Homo sapiens: one gene and its partner. The protein of the gene in region 1 purifies or fractionates together with the protein of each later gene. This does not show direct contact. Each region holds a gene or a part of one and is shown on either strand. Other genes may lie near its edges.

Region 1 (3,813 bases):
ACAGCACCAAAAGAACACTCTGACCACTCTACACCCCTTAGCAGCTCTGCTTCATGCCTGGCGTCTCACTCAGTATGCAAATATGCTCTAGAAAGCTCTAGGAAAACCAGACATTATTGTGTCCACTGGACAAAAGATATGGAAACTAAAGCCCAGAGAAGGGAAGCATCTTGTCCCGGGTGACTTGCCCTGACACCTCCAGATTGAATGGGTCTGCACTGATGCACACACCATGCCAAGCCAGCACAGACATGGGGGTCCTACTATCCTGCTTCATCTCTAAGAGCTACTTTAGAGGCCACCTCCTCCAGGCAGCCTTTCGGGACTACTCCATGGCACTCCTGGCATCAGCTCTAGACTTTTTTTTTTGAGACGGCATTTCACTCTTGTCTCCCAGGCTGTGGTGCGATCTCGCCTCACTGCAACCTCCACCTCCCAGGTTCAAGCAATTCTCCTGCCTCAGTCGGCCGAGTAGCTGGGATTACAGGTGCCCGCCACCGCGCCCAGCTAATTTTTTTTATTTTTAGCAGAGATAGGGTTTCACCATGTTGACCAGGCTGGTCTCGAACTCCTGACCTCAGGCGATCCACCCACCTTGGCCTCCCAAAGTACTGGGATTACAGGCGTGAACCACCACATCCAGCTTCCTGGCATCAGCTCAACAGAGAAACTGAAAGCTCTTGAAGGGCAGGAAAAGTCTGTCCTCCATCCCGGCCCTGCGAACTGCCCAGCCTCACCTTTTTGAACAAAACCAACCAAAGTGGGAAACCTCTTATTTTGACCCTCTTTTATGCCAACCGTCAAGACTGGCCGTACTTTGCCCAGGGACCTGCATCCAGGGGATACACAACCAGGGCTGGCAACTGAATGGCATGACAGAGGGAGACTAGGCAGGGAAAACCTTCTGCCGAGATGGGGGAGTGACAACCCAGAGAAGCTGCCTCGGAAGGAGGGCGATTCATTGGAGGAATTTTCCATGCAACAGTGAATTCACATGTGCCGGGAGAATATTTTGAGCTAGAGGCCAATGCTTTTTTCCTCCTAGAATTTCCCTCCTTTTCAATTCACTCCACTGGAGCAGATGGTTAGCCAGTACTCATTGCCTCATGGGAGGGGTGCAGCTGGACGCAGGCTACACTTTGGTTAAGTCTCAAAAGAAAAAGGAGATCAGGATGCAGACAAAATGGTTTGGCCAGAAACGCAGAGGAAAAAGGAATGAAGGTGGTGAGGGAAGAGAGGTCAGAGGTTCTAGGAGAGGGCTGTGCCTGCTTCGGACCTCAGCAGACGGACCAAGAGATACACGGTAAACCGAGGCAGGTAATTCCCACACCCTGAGTCTGGCGTGGGAGCCTCAGAAAGCCCCAGGGCCAGGCTGCCCATGCTGACATACCTGGCAACAAATGACTTGATGAGCAGCTGACATCACACACACACACACACACACACACACACACACACACACACACACACACACATACCCTGGAGTGTTTAGTCAGGTCCTAGTAGGCGGGGAATGTCAGAAAGTCACTGCCAGGATTGGGAGTTCACATAAAAATTAAAGTGATAAAAAATGTAATTATCTTTCTTTTTTTTTTTTTGAGACAGAGTCTCACTCTGTCCCCCAGGCTGGAGTGCAATGGTGTGATCTCGGCTCAATGCAACCTCCACCTCCTGGGTTCAAGTGATTCTCCTGCTTCAGCCTCCTGAGTATCTGGGATTACAGGCAAGTGCCATCACGCTCAGCTAATTTTTGTATTTTTAGTAGAGACGGGGTTTCACCATGTTGGCCAGGCTGGTCTGGAACTCCTGACCTCAGGTGATCCACCCACCTCGGCCTCCCAAAGTGCTGGGATTACAGGTGTGAGCCACCATGCCCAGCCCAATATATATCTAAAAACTAAAGTGATAGGAAGATAATGGGTCTGGGCTAGGCGCAGTGGCTCACGCCTATAATCCCAGCACTTTGGGAGGCCTAGGTGGGCGGACCATGACGTCAAGAGATTGAGACCAGCCTGGCCAACATGGTGAAACTCCGTCTCTACTAAAAATACAAAAATTAGCCAGGTGTGGTGGTGGGCGCCTGTAATCCCAGCTACTTGGGAGGCTGAGGCAGGAGATTCACTTGAACCTGGAAGGTGGAGGTTGCAGTGAGCAGAGATCATGCCACCGCACTCCAGCCTGGCAACAGAGCAAGACTCCGTCTCAAAAAAAAAAAAAGAAAGAAAGAAAGAAAGAAAAAGAAAAAGAAAAAAAAGAATAATGGGACTGAATGTTACACCTGCTACACACACTCCCACCATTCTAGCCCCTGGTGATTCCATTCCCACCTCTACCTCTCCCTGAACACCCCAGGAATAAGAGTTAGTCCAGCCTCCTCCGATCTGGAAGCACCATGGACTCGGACTGGAATCTGACAAACACGACAGCCCCTCTTGTGTCTCCCACAACCTGGGGGGAGCAAGGGCCCGGCGCTCTGATCCGCGTCATCTCTGACCTTTACAGAACAGGAAATTGCTACTTACTTGACCTTCAGACTTGCCAGCATGGTCTTGTCGATCCTGCCAAGAGAAAAGCAAGGGCTCCGGTCAGTGCTGAGGCTGAAGACTCCTACATAGCATCTGTATGGAGGAGTCCCCGGGACAGCCCAAACCACCAGACAGCAGGGCTCTGTCAGGGACTGGCTAAAGGGGCCAGTTCTCCGCTAGCAGGGGGAGAGACGCCTCTGAGTGCTGGGAGAGCTGGGGCCACACACCACCCTACAACATGCGTATTATTATTCTCCCCATTTCAGAGATGAGGAAACCCAGGCTCAGAAAGGTAAAATCACTGGCCCAGTCTGAATTCAGGTATCTCACGTCAGGTCCAGGGATCGTAAGCACTTTGTATGCAGCCTCTCCCTTTATTACGGCTACCCTCGCAAGAGAACCCAGCAACCCGGCTTCAGGGGTCAGCACGGATGTCAATCTGAATGCCAGGTGGACATCCATATTTCCCAGGCGTCTGCTTTGGGAAGACGCAAGCATCCCCAGCCCCAGGGACCCTCCTGCCCAAGGAGCCACCAGTCCATCCAGGGAGGCAGACCCTGCTCCTGGGGCAGACCCTGGTGGGTTGTATCAGGCACAGAGGTTCAGAGCGGGGAAGATCACGTTTGCTGCAGACTGCCCTCACAGCCAGCTCCTCCATCCCCAGCCTGTGCCCGCCCTCACTGGAAGGGGAGACAGCGCCGCTGAGGTTCTATTTTTACCCCCCTGCATATGCCAGCCCTTATGGCTGGCAAGAAGAGGCCCCTCCTCCCTCTCCAGAGGCAGAAAGGTGGACAGTGTTCCCACTGTCAGTATCTCCTCTTGTGGAAGGGTCGTGACCACCACTGTCACCAGCACTGCCACCAGCACCAATGCTGCCTTTGCAACATCACGATTCGTGTCACCATCACTGTCCATGTCACCACATGTCATCATCAGTGTCACCATCACTGTCAGCTTCACTAAAACTGCCACTGGCTCCAGCATGCTGGAGACCCTGGAGGCTCTTTCCGGCACCCTTCTCTGGCCAGCCCAGCGCTGCCTCAGGCTTCCCACAGTCACAGCTCCAGGGAAGAGGAGAGGACACGGAGCTGAGCCAGCCCACAAGTCACCCTGAGGCCTGGAGCTAGGGGACGGGGTCCTTTCACTCTGAGTAAACTCCCAGCACCTTCTGATCTCAGTTACAACAGCAAAGCAAGCGGCACCCCGAGGGGCCTGGCCCACGTCTCTCCCAGTTTCTTCCTCACACGTCCTCTTGAGTCCCTTCCTTAGGGCTTCCACTACTGGTCCC
Region 2 (3,813 bases), on another chromosome or scaffold:
GAGAGAGAGAGAGAGAGAGAGAGGGAGAGAGAGAGAGAGAGAGGGAGAGAAAGAGAGAAGGAAACAAAATGGAGATACTCACGCCATGTTTAACAGTTTTTGCAGCATGGGCAGCTTTCTTTTTTGCATCATAATGAGTAAGGATGTCAATAATTGCCATGAAGTACACCTCCTTCCTAGGCGAGTCTGCAGAGACAGGAGAGCAATGACTGTGGGACATGTGACAACACCAGTGCCAGCATTGCTGCTGAGGGAGGGAGGGAGGGAGAAGTGAGCCTGGAGGGAGGGGATTCAATGGAACGCGGATGGAAGGAGTCCAGAGACAAACTCTACACCACCCCTGCGGATCCTGACTAAACACACAGCTTGCCTCTCTGACCCAGTCCCCCTGCAATTTAAAAAGAAACAACCCTAACAACTAAAAACATCATCACACCAGGGTATCAACAGTGGAGATCCAACGGTGGAACGGAGTCTTTTTTTTTTTTTAATTTGCATTTTCTTTAATAATTGTGTATTGCTTTGGTGTGAAGAAATATGCTATTTAAAAATACCCTATAAAACAGAACTAATTATGTACACTAATCCTTTACATCAAATGGTAGAACTGTTCATAATTCTCACTGGATACAGTATCAGAACTGGATAAAGGCATACATCCACTCCAATGTCTATTTTCTTTTTTTGAGACAGAGTTTTGTTCTTGTTGCCCAGGCTGGAGTGCAATGGTGCGATCTTGGCTCACAGCAACCTCCACCTCCCGAGTTCAAGTGACTCCTGCCTCAGCCTGCCGAGTAGCCGGGATTACAGGCATGCATCACTATGCCCAGCTAATTTCATATTTTTAGTAGAGATGGGGTTTCTCCATGTAGGTCAGGCTGGTCTCAAACTCATGACCTCAGGTGATCTGCCTGCCGCGGCCTCCCAAAGTGCTGGGATTACAGGCATGAACCACTGCGCCCGGCCCGTGTCTGTTTTCTATCCATTTCCAAAAATATGAACAGTAAGAAAAGTACATTTGACTATCTAATTTTCTGTGTTGAAGAAAACATTTTGGTGAGCAAAACAGAACAAAACAGAACTCAGATCCTCAGCTGATATGCCATTTGAGATTAAAAAACAACTGATGAGCCACAGTTTTTATTATTCAAAAACCAAGAAGCTGTTTTTATCCTATCACAAAAATATTTTGGTATTGTCACGGATAAGTTGCTAAGGTAGGATGTAATATTCAAATAACTGGTGCACCCAATCACCTGGATACGGTGGATTAAGATTTATCTGACTCTAGGGAAGAGGGCCATAGGCCCTTCCATGGGGGAGGACAGCAGAGCCAGACTCAGCAGCAAATCAGATTCCCACCCCACCCACAGGGCCCATCTTCACACACCCTTCACACCCCTGAGAGGGAGAGGGCTGTTGGTAATGACAAGAGGACAAGCTAAGGGTCACAGAGGATCACATGCATGTGCCTAGCTTAGACTCATGATGCTTTTGACTTAGATAAAAAAGATAACTAGGCAAAAACGTATTAATATTTTAAAGCATTTCTGATGTTATTTGTGAACATGTATGTGTGCATATGTACATGCATGTTGTGTTGTGTGTGCACGTACGTTGTATGCCAGTGTGTATGTGCATATGTACAGGTGTGTTGTACATGTATAGTATAGTTCGTGGTTTTGCTGTATTCCCTCAACATCACAGAATTCAAAGGTCCGATCGCCTTATGTTTCAGCACTGAGATCACGGTTAGCTTTAACATACTCTTGTCCCCAAATCCATTTCTTTGGAGTTTGGAGGATGAGTGCTGCCGGGCAGCACCCTCATAACTGGGGTAGTGCTTACTGGTAGATAACAAGGCCAAAGTCAAACCACTTCACATGCAAAAAGGGTCCACAGTAATCAAACTTACTTTCATGGCACTTAATTCCATAGACGTCGATGTTCGGATCGAACTCCCCGGGAGCCAGGGGTGGTGAGCTGTTCAGTGTATTCCCGGGGCTATCTGGGGGGGTTCCCACCGGGTGGGTGCCATCGCTCTCGCCCTCCTCCTCCCCATCGTTCTCCTCACACTCCACTTCCTCCTGTTCGGCTCTCTCCACATCATGAATTCCCACCAGCAGACTGTAGTCCATGAGCTTCAGCTGGGCCAGAAACTGGGGACAGAGGCAACAGGGTGAGTCAGCCACACCTTAAACATAAAAGCCAACATTTAAAGGAGACAAGCTCGGGTGACACCCAGAGGGAAGGCTGTGGGGTGGGGCAGCAGAGGCGCCGGGTGCCTCCTTCACGATGCTCTTACACTCCTGGGCTGTTTCTCTATCTAAAATGTAGCCTCACACTTCAGGCTGGCTCAGAGCTCAGGCTGTTTACCCTGGAATGCCACACTGGATGCGGAGAGGTGTGTATCTATCACAGGGTGGCTGGATTTCACCAGATAGCAAGGAGCATGACCAGTAAGAGATGCGGAGAGAGACTGGGAGAGAGAGCAAGTTCCTCCCAATGATTAAGACTGGCTAATGGGGAAACCCAGGCATCTCCCAAGTAGCTTCCAGCGGAGTCTCTGGTGGTAGTTCAGGAAAGCACCCTGGAATTCAGCATGCTCTGTGGAGGCGATTGTTACGCTGTTGTAAATAAGTAAAAGTAAAGGCACTGTGTCCACATCTGGTGAGTAATGCAGTCCTGTCCAGGTCAACAAGGTGCTTTCCACGTGTGCTTTCCACGAAGCACCACACATCCAGGATTCCTGTCCTCCCTCTCCTCCTCCAGCCGTGGCTAGAACATAATGTGGGGGCAAGACCCAGCTCTGTGTGTTTGGCTACTCCTGTCTGCCCAGTTCTTTGACTTTTCAGATCACGATTTCTCTTTGTTTCCCTTTTCTTATTTGAGACCTTCAGCACAACGTTCCAATGTTGCCATAAGATGTGGATGGTTGTGCTGAGTGCAAACAGTGGCAGCCCATCTGCGGGCTGGACCCAACTGGCTCCCTGACCCCGTGGCTGGCTGGCTCTGCACAGGATCCTGTTCCACTCCGACCTTGGGCTCAGGGTCCAGGAAGGTTCACGGTCCTGGCTCTGGAAGGACTCAGTGCCACCTCGCTGGGGAATGCAGAGTGGCTGAGCAGCCTCTGGGCTATGCTGATAGAATTTAGGAAGCAGATGTCCTCATGCAAAGGGCAAACAGATAAAATCACAGGTCTTGAAGTTCTGGCTAAAAATGAAATCAATTTGCTAAGCCCCGCAGAGTCATTTCTCCTCAGCCTGCTGGGAAGGAGTTCTGTCTCGAAACTGAATGAGAAGCCCCGATTCCTTACAGACGAGGAGAGGACCCCTGGGCACAGGGCTATCCCACTCTCCAGCTGGTTCCTGGTGCCTGCAATTCTCCATCAGCCAGCACCCCGCTCAGCCCAGCAAACTGGCCAGAGCTCCCACTTCGCTGCCTTCCCAACAGGAATCCCCCAGGGCCAGCTATATCTTCCCCAATTGTTTTGAGCTCAAAAAAGAGAAATCACACAAATCTTACACTCAAATATTTAAGCAAAGTGGGAGAAACCTGTTTGTTTAAAAATAGAGGCAAACCCCTCGTGGAAACAGCATGGGGCTCCTGCGTTCAGCTTTCTGGGTCCCAGAGAAGAGGGGAAGCCACTGCTCATCCCCCCTGGTCTTTCCCCAAACTCCCCCATTACAGTAAACATGAGAACTGACTTTCCACTTGCACCTCTCTCTGCCAGATTCCTTTCCAGCAGTCAGAGACTGCGCATCCTCCCCTAGAATCTCGGCAGCTGCCAGGCTGTGAGGTGCACCTGGCCGA

What was found.
Region 2: the proteins of RAP1GAP2 (region 1) and PIP4K2A purify together in Homo sapiens (co-immunoprecipitation; one large-scale study listed by IntAct). This does not show direct contact.

What each region holds. Positions count from the first base shown.
Region 1 is NC_000017.11:2,799,260-2,803,072, reverse strand, and holds part of RAP1GAP2 (rap1 GTPase-activating protein 2), read right to left. Parts: intron 2,559-3,813; coding exon 2,523-2,558; intron 1-2,522. UniProt on the Homo sapiens protein: GTPase activator for the nuclear Ras-related regulatory protein RAP-1A (KREV-1), converting it to the putatively inactive GDP-bound state.
Region 2 is NC_000010.11:22,539,889-22,543,701, forward strand, and holds part of PIP4K2A (phosphatidylinositol 5-phosphate 4-kinase type-2 alpha), read right to left. Parts: intron 2,160-3,813; coding exon 1,916-2,159; intron 187-1,915; coding exon 83-186; intron 1-82. UniProt on the Homo sapiens protein: Catalyzes the phosphorylation of phosphatidylinositol 5-phosphate (PtdIns5P) on the fourth hydroxyl of the myo-inositol ring, to form phosphatidylinositol 4,5-bisphosphate (PtdIns(4,5)P2). Has both ATP- and GTP-dependent kinase activities.